Homo sapiens: one gene and its partners. The protein of the gene in region 2 purifies or fractionates together with the protein of the main gene of each other region. This does not show direct contact. Each region holds a gene or a part of one and is shown on either strand. Other genes may lie near its edges.

What was found.
Region 1: the proteins of FGFR1OP2 (region 2) and STRIP2 purify together in Homo sapiens (affinity purification with mass spectrometry; 2 studies listed by BioGRID and IntAct, with this or other methods). This does not show direct contact.
Region 3: the proteins of FGFR1OP2 (region 2) and STK24 purify together in Homo sapiens (affinity purification with mass spectrometry; 4 studies listed by BioGRID and IntAct, with this or other methods). This does not show direct contact.

What each region holds. Positions count from the first base shown.
Region 1 is NC_000007.14:129,479,341-129,486,793, reverse strand, and holds part of STRIP2 (striatin-interacting protein 2), read right to left. Parts: intron 6,294-7,453; coding exon of another isoform or gene 6,213-6,293; exon of another isoform or gene 6,010-6,212; coding exon 5,905-6,009; intron 3,953-5,904; coding exon 3,748-3,952; coding exon of another isoform or gene 3,725-3,747; exon of another isoform or gene 3,163-3,724; intron 1,216-3,162; coding exon 965-1,215; 3' UTR 1-964. UniProt on the Homo sapiens protein: Plays a role in the regulation of cell morphology and cytoskeletal organization. Required in the control of cell shape. Calmodulin-binding scaffolding protein which is the center of the striatin-interacting phosphatase and kinase (STRIPAK) complexes.
Region 2 is NC_000012.12:26,955,378-26,962,830, forward strand, and holds part of FGFR1OP2 (FGFR1 oncogene partner 2), read left to right. Parts: intron 1-1,165; coding exon 1,166-1,283; intron 1,284-2,223; coding exon 2,224-2,366; intron 2,367-5,137; coding exon 5,138-5,251; coding exon of another isoform or gene 5,252-5,260; exon of another isoform or gene 5,261-5,374; intron 5,375-7,453. UniProt on the Homo sapiens protein: May be involved in wound healing pathway.
Region 3 is NC_000013.11:98,573,677-98,582,004, forward strand, and holds the start of STK24 (serine/threonine-protein kinase 24 isoform b precursor), read right to left. Parts: upstream 3,432-8,328; 5' UTR 3,111-3,431; coding exon 3,069-3,110; intron 1-3,068. UniProt on the Homo sapiens protein: Serine/threonine-protein kinase that acts on both serine and threonine residues and promotes apoptosis in response to stress stimuli and caspase activation.

The DNA of each region.
Region 1 (7,453 bases), on a different chromosome or scaffold from region 2:
AAAATCATTAATCAACACTGCAGAAAAAGAAAAATGGTAAGCTGTGATGCTTTTACTTTTCAATTAGAAAAATATATTGATCACGACCACAAGTGGACATACCATCTGAATAAATAAAGCCTCCTGTAGTTAACTTGTCATTTAAAAAATGAATTAGATGAAAAGGATAATTTTCTGCAGTATGCTCAGCCATTTGAAGACTGGAGTCATTTAAGAAAAACATGAAACATCCTTAGAGAGGACCTAATTATTTCATATTGGTTGTGGCTCTTTAAAAATGGCAGAGCATTCCATGCCCTATACAGAGTACACAAGGAAATAATTTTCACATTGAATATAGATCTCTTACAGAATGAGGAAAAAAACACTTTACACAACACACTTTTCGATAACATGCAGTATTGAGGGAATAGTAAATCATCATCCTTCACAAAGAAGGTGCAGGTGCTCTAAAATAATCTTAGAGCTAATGATTTCAGAAAGAGGCTTCCAAATTTGAAATTTAAAATGCAAACTTAATTTCAAAGTTGGTTTTTCCAAATCTCTGATAAGTCCTAGGAATCCAGTGTGAGCAAGAAGAAAACTTTCTCCCTATTTTATGACTTGTACCTCCCACTATCTGTGATGAATGCCATGGGTCAAATGCCATAACAAATTTCCTCTTTTAGAGCCAGCAAAGTCTAGCCTGGTTGTAGCCAAGACTAAAGCAGGAAAAGGTCCTACCAAAGAGCTTGTCTAGAATTGATCCACCAAAAGATTTCCAAGGCCAACTGGGCACCCAACTGACCCCAGGGCAAGTTGATCATTTTATTGTGATTCAGGATCCCACCCTTGCACCATCTTTAGGCCCAAGAGCCCCCAGAAGAGCCCTGAACTGGTAACAGCGCCTGTATGGACAGGGTAGGCAGAGCACAGTTTATTGGAGCTGACCTCTATCTATTGATGCTTGTTGACAAGAACTTAGTCAGTGATTCTGGAGCAGCTCCTCCCAACAGATGGGCTGTGAAAACACCTCTCTCTCGAGCCAGAGCTCATATGAATAGTGGAAATCTTCAGGCAGATCCAACCTCTGCCCCAGTACGCTCTGCAAGCAGTTATCCACAGGTGAAAACTCAGAGTCCTGGGGTCTGTCATAGCGACGGCTGTTAAAAGCCTCAATGTTGGCCCTCAAGGTACATTCTTCTGCTTGGAAGTCCCATGGTCTGGCATCGATGTCTGTGTTGGAAAGAGAGGAAGAAGAAGACATACAATGCAAGACACTGCTCCTCTTATCACAGAGCATGGTCTATGGGATTCCAAAAATGGAACTGCTCAGAAATTCTTTTTTTTTTTTTTTTTGTAAAGAGCAATGTATGAAGTTAGTATACAGCATGCTGACACTTAGGTTTAAAAAATACACATATGCCCACATGCATAAGCTTGTATATGCAGAAATTATCTTTGGAAGGGTAGTCTAGAAACTGGTAATAGTGGTTACCTATGAGAAAGGAAATGAGGGCCCAGAGGGAGGTGGACTTCTTCTATTGTATTTCCTTTTTATTATTTCACTTTCTTATTAGCTTTATGTATTACTAGTTATATGTATTATGTTTCCCAAAAGGGTAATTAAATTCCTTTTATGCAGCTTTCCTTAGGGGATGAGTGTCCCATCTGAATGGAATAGCCAGCTTTCAAGGAATAGGAAGGGGCAAGAGGGGTATAACATGGAGAATCAGAATGGACCAATTACCGAAGATTTTCCTGATTCCCTGGAATCTCCTCCAGCACATGATAAATCTATATGTCAGCTTATTTTAAGATGATGAGGTGACGGCTTCAATGAAGGTAAAAACAGAAAACAGATAATCTGTTTCGCTTCTATTCACTTAGACACTTATTTCAGGGCTGAAGATACAAATCTCCCAGATCTCTCATGTTCTACATGCAAGGGTTTATCATAAGGAAGTGTAGTGTGAGTTTGGGCTCATAATGGCAGCAACAACAGATGTGCCATTTGCAGGATAAAACATTTTTGTGTTTTAAAAATTTACAAGAATTTAATAGATAATTGTGCTTTATGTCTTATAGCAGAAGTTGCATCCTGGCTTGTTATGTGCCTATCATATGTTTCCTTTAGTTCTCTAAACCCTTTTTTAGTGAAAAGACAGTCCCTCAGCACCACAAATTATGCAGTTGAGTTTCCCACATTTAGGGGAATAGCAGGGGTCAGCATATCTGGAGTAAAATGGATAAGACTTGTCCTGGGAAAACCATCTTCATGATCATGGTATTTTCCCTGCCAGGTAAGTAAGTAGAGTTATCTGAACTCTTTACTGCATCATCCTTTAAAATTCAAGCAGGTTACAAACACAGCAAAGACAAGTCATTACCAAAAATTCTCAAATACAATTATGGAAATAATGGTCAAATACAAAACAATAAAAAAGCTCTCCAAAATAAATTTTTCCAAACTCTGATCAATCTTACAAGTTCTGGTAGTTTAACCAAATATCTTGCCTTCTGATGTGAGGCAATGTACAGTTCCCAAGATTACCTAGGACATACTGCAGCCAAAAAGGTTTAAATTGAATTCATCAAACCTTTAGATTTAACTTCAAGTTTACAGGTAATACCATAGATAGACGAATAAAGTAGATAACACCACAAAGAAGAAAACAGACAAATCCAGAATGTGAGTATTTTGCAGGACAACTGGCCTAGTTCTTCAATTAGTTAGCATTAATGGTGGAGGTGGGGAGACTGCTTAGAGGCCAAGCACGGTGGCTTACACCTGTAATCCCAGCACTTTGGGAGGCCAGGGCAGGAGGATCCCTTGAGCCCAGGAGTTCAAGACCAGCCTGGGCAACACAGGGAGAGACTCCATCTCTACAAAAAAATTTGAAAAATTAGCCGGGTGTAGTGGTGGTATGCATCTGTAGTCCCAGCTACTTGGCAGCTGGGAGGATCACTTGAGCCCAGGAAGTCGAGGCTGCAGTGAGCCATTATCATGTCACTGCTTTCCAGCCTGGGTGACAGAGCGACCCTCTCAAAAAAACAAACAAACAAAAAACAGAAAACAAAAATAATTAACATATATATAACAACTGGATGCAACCTGTGGTCCTGGATTGGATTCTGACTTGGAAAAATAGCTATGAAGAACATTTTGGGACAACTCGAAAATTGTGAATATGAACTTTATTAGATGAAATGAAAATGTACTGACATGAAAAGGTAGAGATAATGTTAAAAGAGAAAATTACAAAATAGCATACATAACTTGCTTTCATTTTGATAAAATATGCATGTATATGCATAGAAAAAGATCTGGAGGAATATACAATAAGATGTTAATGGTGGCAATTTCTGCATAGTACAAATATGGCATAAATATAATATAGTAAAATGTTTGTTTACTTGTATTTTCTATCTTTTTTTCTAACTGCTTTGTAATAATAAAAAGTTGTTTTAATTTAAATCTTTTGGAGAAAGCTGTCATTTAAAAGAATGTTTTGGAAAGGCAATTAATTATCTCTCAATTTACTTGTTTTATAAAACGGATTTTCATAGTTTACATAGGACAAGGGTACATACTAGAATTTGAGGCATAACCTTAAAGTTTGGTGTATCAGCGCCTGACCTATAATCACATATTTTTTCATCTAAAATATGTAACAATTCATGCCAAAAGAGGAGTGATAAATATTTATTTAGTTTTGTCTAAACCCCAGGAAACTCCAGGAAGTCAAGAGCTTTGGGAAGACTCACCATTCCCGTAAGCCCAGTCATCGTTCATGCGGTGACGCACTTTCTGGTAAATGGCTGACATGGTTTTCATGTTGCTTTTCCTCCATTGGCGCCCCAGGTACTTGGTCTGTAACTTTAGTAGCTTTAGGACATAAAGTTGCAGCATGGCCTGTTTGACCTTGAGGGCCCGCTTTAAGATTGGTGCCGATTTAAACACTACCAGCATCTGTTCATTGAAAGAGGGGTGGGGTAAAGATCTAACGTTTCTTGGAATTTCCAGTTTACAGACAAATTAAACCAAACCTAGCTAGCCTCAGAAATTCCTGGGGAGCTTTCAGGAATCTATGGTCCAGGCTCTACTTAGATTTAATCTTCAAGAATATAGAGGGGGGCTGGGCAAGGTGGCTCATGTCTGTAATCCCAGCACTTTGGGAGGCCGAAGCCAGTGGATCACGTAAGGTCAGGAGTTTGAGACCACCCTGGCCAACATGATGAAACCCCATCTCTACTAAAAATACAAAAATTAGCCAGGCGTGGTGGCATGGGCCTGTAATCCCAGCTACTAAGGAGGCTGAGGCACATGAATTGCTTGAACCCAGGAGGCGGAGGTTGCAGTGAGCTGAGATCATGCCACTGCACTACAGCCTGAGTGACAGAGCAAGACTCCGTCTCAAAAAAAAAAAAAAAAAATATATATATATATATATATATAGAGAGAGAGAGAGAGAGAGAGAACTATTCCATTCATATTTTATTGTTCAAAGTTTTCAATATTCAAAGCATATGGTATAAAGTGAAAAGAAAATTTTGTCAGCCACACATATCATTTCCACTGTCACAGTATTTTTGTTTATTTTCTGGAGATAATTCTATGTATGCATATATTACTTTTATTTTTTTGTTTTGTTTTGTTTTTAAGATGGAGTCTTACTCTGTCGCCCAGGCTGGAGTGCAGTGGTGCAGTCTCGATTCACTGCAACCTCAACCTCCTGGGTTCAAGTGATTCTCCTGCCTCAGCCTCCCCTGAGTAGAGGCGCCCGCCACCACACCCAGCTAATTTTTAGTAGAGATGGGGTTTCATCATGTTGGTCAGGCTGGTCTCAAACTCCTGACCTCAAGTGATCCTCCCACCTTGGCCTTCCGAAGTGCTGGAATTACAGGTGTGGGCCACCACACCCAGCCTACTTTTGTTTTTTAACACAAATGGTAGCCAACTACATATCCTGCCACACTGTTCTATACCTGGTTTTTTTTATTGAATATATCTTGAAAACCATTCCATATCAGTACAGAACTGCCTCATTCTTTTACTTTTTTTAATAGAGATGGGGTCTTATCATGTTGCCCAGGCTGGTCTCAAACTCCTGGGCTCAGGCAATCCTTCTGCCTCAGCCTCCCAAAGTGCTGGGATTACAGGCATGCACCACTGAGCCCGGCTGCTCATTCTTTTTAATGATTGCATAATATTCTATTATAAGGACATACCATCATTTATTTAACCAGTTGGTCCTGCTTAATGAGCATTTAGCTTGTTTCCAGGCTTTCATTATTATTATTATTATTATTATTTTGAGACGGAGTCTCACTCCGTTGCCCACGCTGGAGTGCAGTGGCATGATCTCGGCTCACTGAAACCTCTGCCTCCCAGGTTCAAATGATTCTCCTGCCTCAGCCTCCCGAGTAGCTGGGACTATAGGTGCCTGCCACCTTTCCCAGCTAATTTTTGTATTTTTAGTAGAGATGGAGTTTCACCATGTTGGTCAGGCTGGTCTCGAACTCCTGACCTTGTTATCTGCCCGCCTCGGCTTCCCAAAGTGCTGGGATTACAGGCATGAGCTACGGAGCCCAGACAAGCTTTCATTATTATAAACAATGTTGCAATGATAAACCTTGCACTTGCATCATTTGGGAATGTATGTAATCCAAACAACATTGCTAGCTTCCCTGCTAGAGTTGCCCTGAGGGAGGGTTTGAGATTCAGCCCCCTGAAAAGAAATGGACTGATAAGTAATCATCTAATATAGAATAAGTGCCCAGAATTATGAGGTGCTAAATCTTATGTAGCATTCAGTGTCTATATACGGAGATCACAAACCAGGTAGCACACAAATATTTACTAGTGATCTTTTAAAAATTCAGTCAGATGGACAACTCCATGATGTAAAAAACCACACTCACCATGGTCCGGGAATGTTTCCATTTGGTCAGTTTATTGAGCAGCCTCAGGAGGTTGATGCAGGAAAAGAGGTTCCTCCAGCAGAACTGGCTGTTGTCTCCAGCTTCCTATAGTAGGGAACATCCATCATTATCTTAATACCTACAAGGCTTTAATTCCCACAGAAGCCTGGAAGTCAATGTTGGTCAGTTTAGGTGAGGCCTTCCTGTATGAAATAATACCTCCTCACCTTCCTGTTTCTTAACACACTGAAGTCTCCAAAGCCCATGGTTTAAAAACCCCCTCAGCTGCCAATCCTGGAAGACTCTACCTACAGCATGTGTTGGTTAGAAAGATGATACATGAGCACAGGAACCTGATTCAGGCAAGTTTTCTTGTGTAGCTTATTGCTCTAGGATCAGAAAAGAGATGAGAGAATTTTACCCCCATATACAGGTACTTTGCGCTTATATAAACTATGTTTGTAATTGTTAGGATTAGGTCTAATTCTGGTAGATTTTAAACTATGTTGGATGGATCTGATATCAACTATGGTTGAATTTTTTTTTATCTTATCAACCTTCACCCTCCTTTATCAAACCATATTACAGTTAGATGCTTAATTCTTCAGCATGGAAGGAAAAATGGCAGATGGTTTCTTCTAATCAGATATTTTTCTTATATATTTCTTGATAGTTTGTGAACACCTAACCAGAGACAACAGATGGATGTCAGATTAAAAGCAGGTATCTACTCATAGAAAGATTTTTCAGAAATAAAAATGTGAGTCCTTATGTGAATTTGGGGCTTGCAAATACATACTGGTGTCAGAAGCTATATAACTCAATGAGCACACGTGACAGCCAAACTAACATCTTGGAAATTCCTCACATCTACAATGTGATAGGAGAATGTAGGAGTAGATGACATGTAGAAGTGAGCTGCTGTCTGGTGAATGGAAAATTACCTCCTCCTCCCTCAAATTAATTTGAAGCAAGACAGGCATATATCTAATGTGGAATGAACATCCAAAGTTTTTGAGGGTATTAGGCTTTCCTAATACCTAATACCAAGAGCCAAAAAGTTTCAGGGAAATTTCTTATTTAGAAATATTATTTATAGGTCGGTTGTGGTAGCTCACACTGGTAATCCTAGCACTTTGGGAGGCCGAGGCAGGCAGATGACCTGAGTTCAGGAGTTCGAGACCAGCTTGGCCAACATGGTGAAACTCCATTTCTACTAAAAAAATTAAAAAATTAGCTGGGCATGGTGGCAGGAGCCTGTAATCCCAGCTACTTGGGAGGCTGAGGCAGGAGAATCACTTGAACCCAGGAGGCAGAGGTTGCAGTGAGCCAAGACCACGCCATTGAACTCTAGCCTGGGCAACAAGAGAGAAACTCCATCTCAAAAAAAAAAAAAAAGAAACATTATTTATAAATAATATTCTCCATCATACAGTAAATGTTCAATATTGTCCCAGGAGAACCATCTGTCTGCTTCTAAGGAAAACTTCTATGGGACTTTCTACTGTAGTGCATCAGGTAGTCTGGCTTGCCCCAAATAGACCAAGTT
Region 2 (7,453 bases):
CATTGGATTTTAGTACACATTTGCAGGTTATGCAGTATAACCACTACCTGATTCCAGAACATTTTCATCACCACAAAACCTTACATCCATCAGTGGTCTCTCTCTAGTTTCCCCTTTCCTCAGTCTCTGGCAACCACTAATATTTCTATCTCTTTGAATTTGCCTATTCTGGACATTTCATATAAATGGAATGATAAAATATGCGGCTTTTTGTGATTGGCTTCTTAACATAATGTTTTTAAGGTTCATCTATGTTATAGCATGTATCAGTACTTCATTCCTGTTTATTGCCAAATAATATTGCATTGTAAGGATACAGCACATTGTGCTTATCCATTCATCAGCTGATAGGCATTTGGATTATTTTACTTTTTTGGCTGGTAAGAATATGCTGCTATGAATATTTGTGTACAAGTTTCTGTGTGGACATATGTTTTCAGTTTTCTTGGGTATATATGTAGAAGTAGAATGGATGGGTCATATAATAACTCTGTTAAAATTTTTTGAGGATCTGCCACATTGTTTCCCAAAGCAGCTATGCCAAGCTTGTCCGACCTGTGACTTGCTGGCTGCATATGGCCCAGGATGGCTTTGATTGCGGCCCAGCACAAATTCACAAACTTTCTTAAAACATTATGAGATTTTTTTTTTTTAAAAAAAAGCTCATCAGCTATCGTTAGCATTAGTGTATTTTATGTGCAGCGTGATAATTCTTCTTCCGATGTGCCCAGGGAAGCCAAAAGATTGGACACCCCTGAACTACATCATTTTACATTCCATCAACAATGTATGGAAGGTTGCAGTTTCTTCACATCCTCTCCAACAATTGTTATTGTCTTTTTCATTACAGTCATCCTCGTGGGATATATTGAATTGCATTCTCCTAATGACTAGTTAGGTTAATTAAGTATCTTTTCATGTGCTTATTGGCCATTTGTATATCTTCTTTAGATAAATGTTTATTCAAATCCTTTGCCACTTTTAAAAATGGGGTTATTTTCATTTTATTGTTGAGTTGTAAGTGTTCTTTATATATTCTGGATACTAAGCTCTTATCAGATTTTTTATATGTATATTTCAGATATATTTATATTTATATATCATATATATATATATATATATATTTGCAGGTATTTTCATCCCACATGTTTTTCTCCCCCATTAGTATCAGGAAGAAATTCAAGAACTTAATGAAGTCGCGAGACATCGGCCACGGTCCACGTTAGTTATGGGAATCCAGCAAGAAAACAGACAAATCAGAGAGTTGCAACAAGAAAACAAAGGTAAGATACGTTACTTTTTGACATTAATCCCATTTCTAGTCTATATTCCTAAATCGTATTTATTGCTCTTTATCCTGTCCCACATATGAACATCTGCCTGGTTGACATCCTCTTAGATTCTCACCCTTAATATCCAGTTAGCACTGCTGTTGTTAGCTATGAAATAACCCAGCTTCATTCTCTGCAGTCCCACTGCATTGGCCCCCAGATTAGATGCTCAGTCTCTTGCCTGAAATGTCCAAACTGATCTCCCTGATTCCAGTCTCTCTTCCCCCTTCCAATCTGTCTTCAACATAACCATCAGATTGATATTTCAAAAATCAGTCTGATCATGTAATTCTTTTGCCTAAGAACTTTCATTATATACTTATTACCTTTTACAGGGTCCCTAAAAATCATTTCCCAGCCTTTTTTTTAAATCTTCTTCCCACAGCTTTCTTCACTGTGAACTCTTTGCTCTTGCCAACACCAATCACTTCCTAAACACGTCATCTGTTTTCATGCCTACCTGCTTAGAAGGTCCATTCCTTCACTTTTCAACTGAGGGAACTCACACTGTACTTCTACAAAGCTTCCACCAGTTTCTTCCCATAGACATCTCTTAAATCTATTTGACTTAACACTCCACTCTGCCACCTACCACATGCTTGTTTTCTCTACTAGACTCTTGAGGTCTGTGGCCCTTAATATAGAGGGAGCCTTGGCCGATATTAATTGCTGTTTAGTACATCTTTGTTGAAATGATTCTCAAGAAACAAGCTTAAAATATTCAAAAAACTAATACGGGACTTCATTTGGTGTCTCTTATTGTTATATGGCTAGATTTTTGTGCATTGTGTTTTCTTTTTAAAATGTCCCGTTCATAAGTTGCTTAGTGGAAGAGAATATTTTGTGTACTTTTAACTCAAGTTGGAATAAAATACAATATTATTCTTGATAGAATTACGTACATCTCTGGAAGAACATCAGTCGGCCTTGGAACTTATAATGAGCAAGTACCGAGAACAAATGTTTAGATTGCTAATGGCTAGCAAAAAAGATGATCCGGGTATAATAATGAAGTTAAAAGAGCAGCACTCCAAGGTAATCCATTCTATAAATGTGACCTGAAATGGAAAAGAGAGACGATTGATTATTCTGTGTTCAGATTTTTTTTGAAAAAAATCACAGGTATCTAGTAATGGCATTTTAACATGATGTTGAATGTTTCATCTTTTTAATTGACATTTTCTCCTTTTTCTTATTTTTCCATTTCTTGTTATATATCATTTTCTGTTTGATTTATAAACTCTCACTGTTTCTTAGAAACTTTAATTTGTACGTTGAAAAATAAATTTTATTTTGGATATAAAGGTAAGTCTGGTCTCTTCAACATTATTTTTGTAGGGCTATATACTTTTAAGAAATATTTCTTAAAGGGCTGGGCATGGTGGCTTACGCCTATAATCCCAGCACTTTGGGAGGCCAAGGCAGGAGGATCACTTGAGGCCAGAAGTTCAAGACCAGCCTGGGCAACATAGCATGACTCCATCTCTTCAAAAAGTAAAAAAATTAGCCGGGTGTGGTAGCACATGCCTGCAGTCCTAGCTTCTCAGGAGGCTGAGGTGGATAGACCACTTCAGCTCAGGAGTTTGAGGTTACATTGAGCTACGATCATGCCATTGCACTCCCATCTAGACAACCGAGTGAGACCCTGTCTCTTAAAAAACAGAAATTTTTTTAAGAAACATTTTTTCTAATAAATTTGTGTATTGACTTCTCTTGCAAAAACAAAAAATAATGGAAACCTTTTTTAAAATCTGAAAGCAGTTTAATGTAGATTTTTCTTAAGACTGTTTTCTGAATAAGGCTAATTCATCCAGACTATAAATGATCTTGTTTATTATAATGGAAAAAACATGGGGTTCAGGAGAAGAACCAACATAGTAAAATTTTGCTCCCTTGCCCCAGTATTGTATACCAGTTGACATCATTTTTTAGAAACAAAGCTGAAGTAGTTAGAAATTAGTGTTTTACCTGCTGTTCATCCCTTTGTCATCCCTGTGTCTATTCCCTTTGGTATGTCCCCATATTTTATGGCATATTTTATGGCAACTGCTATGAAGACAAGTAGAATAATCCTTTCTCACATATTTATTTTAAACTGAGTTTTAGTTGCTGATATGAAATAAAAATAATAAACTAGATTGTGGAAACTAGACTGTTACCTGTATTAGATAATGGTGAGCTGACTATTATTATTACCAATATTATTTAAGAAACAGTGATTATGAGCCTTCTTTTCCCCATTTGTTACAACAGAAATAGGAAAGGACATATTTTCATATTTATCTATTATTGAAACACATTTTAGATTCTTTAAAATACTTCTTCCATTTTGGTGCTTGTACGTGTTTTTAACTTATTAGTAATTAATTCTATTAGAATTAAATACCTATCAAATAGCTCTTTATATGCCTTTATTATATTAGAAAACCTAATGATAGGTACCTCTTGTGTCAACCAGTAAAATAATAAATTAAATTAAAAATTTGTGTTTAATGTTTTCTAATTATGCTATTCATCTCCTAATCAAATGGCAATCCAGGGATGTTTAAGTGGTGATCTTTTGAATACAAAATTTAACTATTGTTAATGAGACCATTCTAAAATCATTTAAATTTAAAGGTATAATAATAACTATAGTAACTAAGACTTTTTAAAGGCACTAAAAGGAGTTGACTTAATATTATTTGTAAGATAAATATAATCTTGAGAATTTCTAAAAGGTTTGTATGTTTTATAACCTAAAAATAAAATGTTAAAGATCTAAAGCGAAGAATACCATTACAAAAAAAGTGCTTAGAATAGGATAACTATAGCTTGCAGGTCCCATCTGGTAGCAACTATGACAGAAGCAAATGTTTCCTAAAATATATTAGATTTTACTATTCACCAGAGCTGGTTTATTAATTAGTAAGGTTAAACATTTCCTAAGATAGCTGTAAGCCATCCTTTTTTATTATGTAGATTGAATTCTTCATCTAAGTTCAGATGATCCTTGCCTCCCATAAAATGACTATTCAGTTATTTGTTATTAATTTTCACTAATACATATTAATGTTTGTGATTTTGATTTTTCCCAAAAAGGAGACACTTCGACTTAATTAAACAAACATTAATACTGGCACTGGGTTAGTTATGGGAAATAATAAGATGAATGTACAAGCTTGCAGTATAGTGGGAGATACAGACACAAACATAACAATCTACTATAAGGTAGGGCGTGATGAATCCCAAAGTAGATGAATTGTTACTGGAACGCTAGAGGGAACAATATTAACTGTCATAAGGAAAATCTGGAAAGGTAACAAGGAAGGGAAGAAAGTCTGTCTCAGTCCAGCCTTGAATTAATTATGGGCAGGTAGGTAAACAAGCAGAAGTGGGTGGGTGGGCAGAGAAACTTGTATAATAAAAGCACAAAAAGTATGGTATTGTAGGGTGTGTTTAGGTACTAGTGCTCTGATATGCCTAAACACAAAAGTAATTTTACAACACATTTAGAGCTAAGAAACAGAGTTACACATAACAGCATTTTGGATTGGAGTAAGAGATCCTTTTGAGACTGTTATAATACAGAACTTTGCCCTTAACTAGAAGTTTTTGAGCACATACTTAAAAAATCAGTAGAAAGTTTGAGAGCTCATTTTTACCCAAATACTAATTTTCATGTTATTTTTGAACAGATGCCTTTTTGGAAATCTTAAAAAAGCAAACATTTCAAACAGTTGGCTAACACGCATGAACTAACACTCATTCAGTTTTTAAATTACGGATGATATCCGTATTAACATTATAATGACTCTATACTACAGATTGACATGGTACATCGTAACAAGTCCGAAGGATTCTTCCTTGATGCATCTCGACACATCCTTGAAGCACCTCAACATGGACTGGAGAGAAGGCACTTGGAAGCAAATCAGAATGTACACTAAATAAACAGTCAACTTTTGGGGTGTGGATGGAAGGGGGGTCCATTTTAAAAGTGCTTTTACATTGAATTTCCCTCCCAGATTAGATCAGCAAATAAATGAAATTTATTAAAAGAATGTTGTGTCTTTAATAGCCATGCTGTTCAGTGTAGAAACTTTAAATCTCTCATTAATTTTCTGTGTATTGTATCATGTACAGCCTGTTAGATATTTGCAGGTTTTATAGGTTATTCAGTCCAACGCTTTATTTATTTGCTCTTGTTAGTTGTTGCTGTGAAACAGTCATTTCCTTTCTGGACATCAAAGATATTTTCTTGGCATTAATTTTAAACTGATTTCATAAGGTCAAAGTATTAAATGTTTTAATTCAGATTGTGGATAGTTTGTAGTCCTTTGATTTTGCAAATGAAATTAAAATGCCTTTGTTTAGATGTTAGGATTAAGTATAGTAGTGCTCTCTCCATTGTGTCTTAATTTTTTTTTAACTCACTTGTGGCAGGTCTTTATTGAATAAAGGAGGAATAAACCTAGACAGGGAGTTAGAAATGAAAGACATTTCAAGACAGTTCAAGGGTTATGTTGGTGACACTTCTTGTCTTCCAGACAGTTTTGAAAGCACAGATCTTGCCTCTTGTGCTTGTTAAAAAATCTGTGATACTTCTCTGAAGATTTTATAATTAAATAAGTGAACCATTACCATGACCTTTTATAAAAGTGCTGCCCTATTTGAAGTATTGGGTTTTTTCTCATGATGAGCTTTGTTAGACTTGGTACTGAAAAAATCAGTAGTTTTTTTCCTTCTATTTTAAAGGCAAAGAAATGCTTGCTTCAGCTAGGCATGGTGGCTCATGCCTGTAATTGGGAGGCTGAGGTGGGTGGATCACCTGACGTCAGGAATTGGAGACCAGCCTGGCCAACATGGTGAAACCCCATCTCTACTAAAAATACAAAAAGTTAGCCAGGCGTGATAGCGGGTGCCTGTAATCCCAGCTGCTCGGGAGGCTAAAGCAAGAGAATTGTTTGAACCTGGGAGTGGGAGGTTGCAGTGAGCCGAGGTCGTGCCATTGCACTCCAGCCTGGCCAACAAGAGCGAGACTCTGTCTAAAAAAAAAGAAATGCTTGCTTTCTGTGTAGTTTTTTAACTTAGGTCAGTGCCATAGGACTGACCAAATCATAAATTGAGGATGCTGTTGGTATTCAAAGTTTTTACTCATTACCCTTACTCAGTTTGCAGCTGCAATGATCTGTACTTAACCTGCTTTTACATATTATGCTTCCTTGACAATGGGAGGAATTTTAATGGTTAACTTGCAGAATATGACAGATACTTGTCTTAATATCATTCTTCCTACCATAATCTAATTCAAAACTATCCAGTAGAACTTTCTGAAATGATTGGAATGTTTTTTATCTGTGCTGTCCAGTGTGGAAGCCAGTAGCCACATGTGGCTGTTGAGCACTTGCAGTGTCACTAATGCGTTTGAGGGACTGAATTGTTAATTTTTAAAAATGTATTGATTTTAATTAAGTTTAACATTGTTTTGGACAGCACAGATTAGCCTTTTAGAGTACCTTCTTGCTGAGTACTAGCAGTGTATAGGTTTCCCCATGAAAAGGACCTACATTTTTGTTGGTTAAGAGGTTATTAAATGTGCTTTGCCAAAGATACTACCTTGTCATTTCTTCCAGCTTATTAGTTCCGTGGGTTTCTTGGAGTACTGTTAAATCCTTTTTACAAATATATATATACACAACTACTGAAGAGACTGTTTATTTGGGGAGTTATTCACTTTTATATTTAAGTCTTAGGCTTAATATGATAAAATACCTCTCAGTTGCTGTGAATAATGGTCTATAGAAGCTGTTCATTGAGAAAATGATTATTCTCGAGTTTCTGTTGATTTTAAACCTTTTTTGTCTGTCTCTTTCACTAGACTGTAAGCTTCTTCAGATCAGGGGACATGTCTTGACAGTCTTTGTATTCCTGTTGTTTAGCATAGTACTGGCACATCATAGGTGTGCAAGATAAGAAAATGAGATTGGAAGAATTTATGCTACTTGCTGCGCCTAACAAATGTGGATGTCTGTATTATACTGATACTATATTTTCAATAGTTAGCAAAGAAGGCCATTTAATATTTTAATACTGAAAAGCAGAATTGTGCTCATTTTATTCAATACTTACCATATACCATA
Region 3 (8,328 bases), on a different chromosome or scaffold from region 2:
TAGCCAATCTAACTAGCAATGAGATAAACTTTAATGTTTGCAAAAGTAACCATAAAACAGTAACACTGCATGATGAGTGGGAGTAGGAGGAGTAGTAGTTTCCAATCACAAATTTGCCACATAATATATGATCTCACCTTGGTCAGTTAAGTCTTCCTTGGTCTCCACATCTACAAAATGGTATAATATCATCTACATCTCAAACGGTACCGGTAAGAATCAAGAGGCATAAAAATGATTTGCAAAACATTGAAAAATGGTGTTTATACTAACATGGTTGTTATTTTTCAAGCATCCTTGCCTAGGCCACCTGAATTCACTCTGCTTTATTTTTTTATTTTATTTTTTTTTTTGAGACGGAGTCTGCCTCTGTCGCCCAGGCTGGGGTGCAACGGCACAATCTCAGCTCAACGCAACCTCCGCCTCCCGGGTTCAAGTGATTCTCCTGCCTCAGCCTCCCGAGTAGCTGGGATTACAGGCGTGTGCCACCACGCCCAGCTAATTTTTTGGATTTTTAGTAGAAACAGGGTTTCACCATGTTAGCCAGGATGGTCTCGATCTCCTGACCTCATGATCCGCCCACTTCGGCCTCTCAAACTGCTGAGATTACAGACTCTGCTGTCTTTCTAAGCCAACTCCTTATAAGCCCTGGTCAGGAGACAAGAAAAAGGGAGGGCTATGAGGCCTATCAGAGCAAGCCATAGAAGAGATACGGACTTCTCTCCTCCCATTTAGCAGACAACAGTCGAAAGCAGGTGTGTTTTTAATTGAATCTTCAGCAACAACTCTTAGGGAAGCCTCCCAGGGCAGTAGCAACTGCTAATTTGAAGTAGAAAATAAATGTGCTGTTGTTTTTCTTTTGTGGGGTGGGGGAGGAGAAAAGAATGTTCTTCCCCAAATGATACACTGTTACCATACAGTCTGTAGATGTACTTAGGTACAGGAATGACTGGCAGAAGCCAACTTACCTACCTCTAAAACTGTAAAACTGTAACAGCTGAAAATCTGATCATCTTTTCCACTGAGAAACACTTAAGATCTTTCATACTGAGAAAACAAAATAAAAACAGTTCCCATGTAACACAACCTAACAGATACATAATAGTTGAGAGGCAAAGTTATTAAGGAAATGTATCTTCTTTTCCCAAGGTTTAAGAATTCTGACCCACTCAAAAAAAAAAGTGAGGATAAAAATGAAAAGGTGAGATACTAGATATCACCTGGTAACCATCTGATACTGACTTCACGGCACCAGCCAAAGGGGCTTTAGTACCTTTTCAAACTGATTCGCTATCCACAAAGGCCAATTAACCTAGTAAGTGAGGCATTTGTGCTAGATTCCAACCTGATGAACACGGTATAAATATCAACCTAAAGGAAATATTGATAAAACTTTTTTTTTAAATCATTACAAGAGTCCTTTCTTGCTCGACTAGTAAGAAATTACTTTTTTCACCCAGTTCACTCTGACCTACACACCTCTAAATTCATACCAAAGCGGCTTTAGAAAATACCAAGAAACCACATCTGATTGTTACCCAGCAGTCAGCAGAAGTTTAGGTTTTGAATGCATGCTAAATTCAACGCTCCTTAAATGAGAGTCGACAAAAGAATATTCTTCAAGCATCTTCCCAGTCACTCTTAAGATAATAACTTAACTGTTGCTGCTTAAATGTATATTTATTTACTGCTTAAACATATATACACACATATATATACTGCTTATATATACACACACACACACACACACACATATACACACACACACACTTGGACTAAAATTCTAGCTGCCATTAAAGTGGTAACTTTGAGTTCCTATTTTTCCAGAATTCAAACCTGAACAGTGAAATCCAGTTTTCTTTTTACGGTTTCAAAAAAAGAAGGGAGAGGGATGATCTCACTGGAAGAGGCGAGCAGACCCCAGAGGCAGTCCCAGGTCTGGGCTCTGTGCTTCTCAGCCCTCAAGACACAGGGAAGGAGCCTGTTGGTACCTGTAAATCAACCAGTAATCTACTTGGATGCTTTTGGTTTTCTTCAAACACTTAACGTTCACTCAGCTAAACTGGCAGAGCAAACTTTCATGACATATCCTAACTGCATCCTAAGATTTCCATCCTAAGCATTTTGCCACCATTTCTGCGCCTACAAAGTTTACAAGAGTTAGCCAAGGACGGTAGCTTTGTTTTTCAAAGGGCTAAAAGCAACGACAACGAAAACAACAACAACAAAAAACCTTTAACTTATACATGTAAATTTGAAATTCAACTCCTCTCCCACTCCCCAAAAAGTCACTGGTAGGCCAAGGTGTCACCAAGTACCGAAAGAGAGGTTTACTGGGCGAAGAATTCCTGTAAATGCAACCAAGTCTCAAAGTGAAAGTCCAGGGTCCCGGGGCCGGGCCCGGGACCCTGGTGCGCGGCTGTCCGAGGGATTCCTCCTTCCAGAAGGTTTGCAACTCGCACTTTCCCCCGGTCCGCAGGTGCACGGGGGCTCCGGGCAAAGCCACTGCAAGTGGAACTCGCGGTTACCTTCCTCCACTCCACCCTGCCTACTCCGCTCGGGCCCGGACGAGTCCAGGCGCGCTCCCCGTCCCCGCCCTGCCCAGGTCTCCCGCCCGCCTGCCCGGGGGTGGGGGACGAGCCTGGGGGACGCGTCCTGGGGCCCTCCGCCAACCCGGCCACCACGCAGGGCCCCGGGACCCGGCGGGGGCCTCCAAGGGCATCACTCCACCTCACTTCTCCCGGGGACAGGGCCACCCAGGGCCTGCAGCTCCGGAAGAGTGTTGGGGCGAGGGGAGCGCGGAGGACTAGGCGCCCGCACCCCCACATCCGGACCCAGGCCGCGGTTCCTACGGCTCCTGCACGCACACGCCGGAGACCTCGGCCGCCGGAGCCGGCAGGGACGCCCAGGGACTCGGACTCGGACCCCCGGCCGAGCCGGGCGCGCGGGGAGCCAGGCTCCGGCGCGACCCCGGCCGGCTGAGCGTAGGGGGACGCCGTGTGGATACCGCCAAGTTGCTGCTTCCGCCCCGGTCGCGCATCCCGGCCCCGCGGCCCGCGCCCGCCTACCTGCATGCCGGGCAGGCCCGACTGCACCGGGGAGTGAGCCATGGCGCTCAGGACGGCCACTTCCTGGGACGGGACGGCCGGGCCGCGACGATCCGCGCGGGGCGGCGAGGCCCGCGGGCCGCGCGCAGCCCTCGGGCGGCGGGGCCGGCCGGAGCCCGAGGCCACCCCAGCCCTGGCGGGTCCCGGCCGGGCGGCGGGGGCTCAGCGGCGGGTGGCGGGCCGCGTCTCCATGCACGGCGCCAGGGAGGAGCTGCTGGGGGCGCAGGGCCTCGCGCGCACTGCCGCCGCCGCCGCTGCTGCCGCTACTGCTGGGCTGGAGCCGGGCGGCCTGGGCCCGCGCGCGCTGGCCGCTGGAGCCGGAGTGGGCGCGCACAGCCCGCCGAGCCCGCGAGCGCCGAGCGCGTCCCGCCCCGGCCCGGCCCCCGCGCCCGCCCCCACGGCCCGGCCGGGGACCCCGCCCCGCGCTTCCGGGAGGGGGAGGGGAGAGGCCGGTGGCCGCGCGGGAGCCCTAGGCCGCAGCCGCCGCCTGTCGGCCCGGCCCGGGTCCCAGCTGCTCCTGCGGCGCTCCCACGCCCCCGCGGGCGGGCGGCGGGGCCGGGAGGGGGCCTCGGCTGGGGCGGGCGCCGGGAGGGACCGAGTCGGGGCCGGAGGCTGGCCGCGTGCCCACCGGGCCGGCGCCGGGGCGAGCCTGGGCCGCGGCCCCCTCTTCCCGCCAGCCAGCCCACCCCGCCCCGGCGGCCTCTGGGAAAACGCGTCCCGGGCGAGCCCCTGAGGGCAGGATCGGAGTCGGGGGCACCTGGGGAAGGAGAGCGCCCCGTGGGGCCTCGGCCGGTGGCCTGTGCCAAAAGGCCGGGCAGAGCTGCTTCGGTGTCTGGGTGAAGTTTCCAGCCAACCCAAGAAGGAAACCGAAAGGGAAGAGGCCGAGAGAGAGGTTAATTCCTAGTGCTTTGGTTACCGAAAACAGCCCGGCTGGGACTGCTGGGCTGGGAACTTAGCTAAGCAGTGCGGAGGCTGAACCCCACCATCTCTGGGATCCGCAGCAAATCAGAAGCCCCCACCCACGATAAGGGGAAAATGGGGCGCAGAGGGCAGGGAGGAAGGGAAGAGAATGGAAGGAAAGCGCGTCTGGACTTTGAACTGCAGCCCTCTCCCTCTTTCCCTTGCCTCGGAAGCTCCAGGCCCACTCAGCACCAGTTCTGTCTCCTCTTTTCAGCCGCCTTCTCTCTAGCTACTGAGGGGAAAAGTCAGGATGAAGCGGGTCCCTCGGCCTCCAGAAGGTGTTTTATTACAGTCGCAAACAGGTAGAGCGGCAGCCACCCCAGTGATGACTCCCTGCTCCTTAGATTGTAGGGACGCTGGCACCTCACTCATGCTCCTAAGTGGCCATTTTGCGCCCTGGCTGGGCGAGTTAGGCAGACAAAATGAGCCCCCAAAAGTTTAAAGGCCTCCACCAAAGGAGTATTTCTTTTCTGAGGTGTCATTGTATTCCATCCACGAACTTCAGTTCCCCCGGGTGCTCTGGATCTGACATGGAGTAGGATGCTAACATCTAATCCCTTCTTTCCCTTTGGAAAGATGCATGTTTTTTCTCGGAGTCCTAGGGAATACCTTAGAATACTTTCATGGTTGTCATTGGTACACCCATCCCTTGAGGAGCCCTGCCACCCGTAAGTAGGACTGCAAGGAAATACAAAATTAAGAGAAGTATGAACCCTGATACCCAGGAACTTAAAATCAGGTGTATAAATTTTGTACACCTAAAAAATATGGTACCTAAAGAGGCGAACAGCAAAACAAGCAAGAATGTGAATCTTTAAAATGTTTCTATTCTTCAGCGCAGCCCAGGAATTCTACCTAAAGTAACATATCCTAAGGCAACAACCAAGAAGTGTGGAAGAATGCATGTAAGAAGACACAGTGATGTTTAGAATCCTGGGGAAACGGAACAGCCAAAAAGTCTCACAGAGGTTAAGTAAATAATAGCATTTTCATACGAGTACTATGTAGTCATTTAAAATTATGTCTTTCAGTACCTAGTAATGGGGAAAATGTATTCATTATATATTATTAAAGAAAATACAGGGTACAAAACACTGTATATAGACTGATCTCAAATGACTATATATATATTAATATATATGGCCTACAGACACACAGTCATGTATTGCTTAACAATGGGTATACATTCTGAGAAATGTGTTCTTAGTTGATTTTGTCACGTGAGCATCATAGAGTGTACTTCCAGAAACCTAGATGGCATAGCCTACTACACACCTAGGCTATATGGTATGACGTATTGCACCTGGACCACAAACCTGAACAGCATGTGACTGAACTCAATACTGGAGGCAACTATAACACAATGGTAAATATTTGTGGATCTAAACATGTCTAAGCATAGAAAAGGGACAGTAAAAATATTCTTCTAGGGTCAGCAGAGCCAGGGCAATAACCTGGCACCAAGATAAAGAGCAAGAAACTAGATGAATGGATGGAAATGTCTGGATGCTGATCTGAGACATTACCATGGTAAATGCTCAGAAATCACTTTGCAGTGGGCTAATTGCCAGCAAATAAGTCACAGCAGATGGGGGACAAAGGCCCATAGTACCCTGGGTATAAAAAAATAACCGGAATCCTAGTTTGTGTCCTGAGGCTAGTGAGGCTCAAAACAGGGAGATTCCGGCAGGATGTAACTTCTCTGGACACAGTGACTTGCATCCATTAGCTGGTCTGTTGCCCCGAACCCTGTTTATCTTCTCTCCACACTGACCATTGTTTCATCCTTTGACAATGTTCATACTGTTGAGCACCATTCTTATCGAAAGAAGGGAAGGAAGCAACATGGGAGTTACTGGTTCTCCTTGGCCCTATGCAGGTAGTACCGAGTATTCCCCATGGCAGAAGTAGGTCTCCACCTTATTTGTTTTTGCACAACAGAGATGATGCACAGGGCCTGAGCCCGGGATCAGATCCGGTGCAATTGCCTATTATGTTCATTCATTCACACCTTTTTTGAATACCAACTATTAATACATGTCAGATACCCAGTTCAGTACTGGGCATATAAACATTAGATCCTCAGGTGCCTCTTAACCCATCCTAGGGACCTGGTCTCCCAGAATCCTAACTTTGGATGAATACAATACCATAATTGATTAAACTTAGAGTGGCAATAGCTATCATTTCCACCAAGGAAAGAAAAGGATCATCCTCTCACCCTCTTCCTCTTGTCACTTTCCCTCCACCCCCAATGTATGATTACAACAGGTTATACACTACCGTAAGTCCAGAAGGAGATTATGAGAGTCTCCATAGAGATGATGCATTTTATGGTCTCCATGGAGATACTAACCCATTGAGTTATTTACTTTATCCATTGAATTATTTTTCTTCCCTGGTCCTCTTTGTCTTTTGTGTTCACTTAAGGACATCAGTCTGGCAATGAATTATGATCTGAAATATATTCTGGACCACAAAGAATATTTCCATACCCCTATATGGAGCCCCTCCAAATATAAAGCCCCTATGTATTTGCTGCCCCTAAGCTAGTTTGTACGCACTCTCAGCAGAGCTCAGAGAGGAACAGAAAACAAGAATTCCACAATCAATCCCTTCACTTTTCTTTCTAAGTTGAAAAGATAAACACCCCCAAATGCTGCTTTATAAAGAACAGCTAGACAAGTAGAGCATTAGCAATTTAAATTCAGAGATTAAAGAAAGGGACTTACATGGTGAACTTTAAAGGGAGAAATAGGAGTAGCTTGGATAAGTAACTAACAGAAGGCTTAGACAAATTTCTACACATGTTCAGTAGGTGAAGACAAATTATCAAGATCAGTTTAAAGAAGAATGTCTAGTCATTGTTGGATGACACAATAGCAAGAAAAGGTATGCCAAAGCCCCAGAAAAATATCCCAGCTACATTGAGGAATGGTACCAATAAGGTTTCATTCTGTGCGTGGAGAGCTCAGAGGGCAGGCTCTTGCAGGGATATCACCCTAAGTAGGTTTTCAGTTGCACCCTGCCTTAGTTTGCTAGGGCTGCCGTAACAAAGAACCACCAACTGGATGGCCAAAACGACAGAAATTTATTTCCTCACCATTCTGGAGGCTGGAAGTCCAAGATGAAGGTGTCAGCAAGATTGGTTTCTTCCGAGGCCTCTCTCGGGCTTGTAGCGGCCAGCTTCTCCCTCTGTGTTCTCGTGGTCTTCACTGTGTGTTCCTGTGTCCTAATTTCCTGTTTTTATTATTTATTTATTTATTTATTTATTTATTTATTTATTTATTTTGAGATGGAGTCTCGCTCTGTTGCCCAGGTTGGAGTGCAGTGGTGAGATCTCGGCTCCCTGCAACCGCTGTCTCCCAGGTTCAAGCATTTTTCTTGCCTCAGCCTCCCTGGTAGCTGGGACTACAGGCGAGCGCCACCACACCCGGCTAATTTTTGTATTTTTAGTAGAGACGGGGTTTCACCATGTTGGCCAGGCTGGTCTCGAACTCCTGGCCTCAAGTGATCTGCCCACTTTGGCCTCCCAGAGTGTGTGAGGCACCACGCCTGGCCCTAATTCTTTGTTTTTAGAAAGATACCGGAGTCGTACTGGATTAAGGCTCATCCCAATTACTTCATTTTTGCTTAGTTACCTTATTAAAGTTCCTATCTCCAAATACAGCCACATTCTAAGGTACTAGGAATTAGGACTTCAGCATAGGAATTTTGGAGGGACACAAGTCAGCCCGTAACACACCTCCTTTTCTGCAAATGTGTGTCTGGTCAGCCCCCCTTTAGCTGGGTCTTCCAGGCTCAGCTTCAGGAATGAGAGCTTCCTTCTCCCTTGCCAAGGCCTGTGGACCTTTCTGCGCACTTCACATTGCACACTTCTGCTAATAAGCATTGCTTCATATTTCCTTGGGTGTAGGCCTTAAACTTTATCTTGCATAGAAACCAGAACACTAGTCTCCAATCACTGTACAACTGAGAGCAGAAACAGAGAATGCATAGGTGTTTGCTTGATAAAATATTCCTGATTAAAAGAAATCATCTGGAACACGTGACAAAAATCTGCCAGAAAAGGGTTCAGAATATTTTGCAGGCCTATCCATACTCAGTTCAGGCAAAAGATTTAAACAAGATCCATCTTTCTCCCCCACTGCCTCCTCCCCTGTGTTGGGAGGTGCAATTTACCAGGGGAGTTGGGGGTTGAGCCTCCAAGGGGGCTCTTTGTTGCACATGCTCTCTGCTGCAGTTCTGGGGGCTCACACCA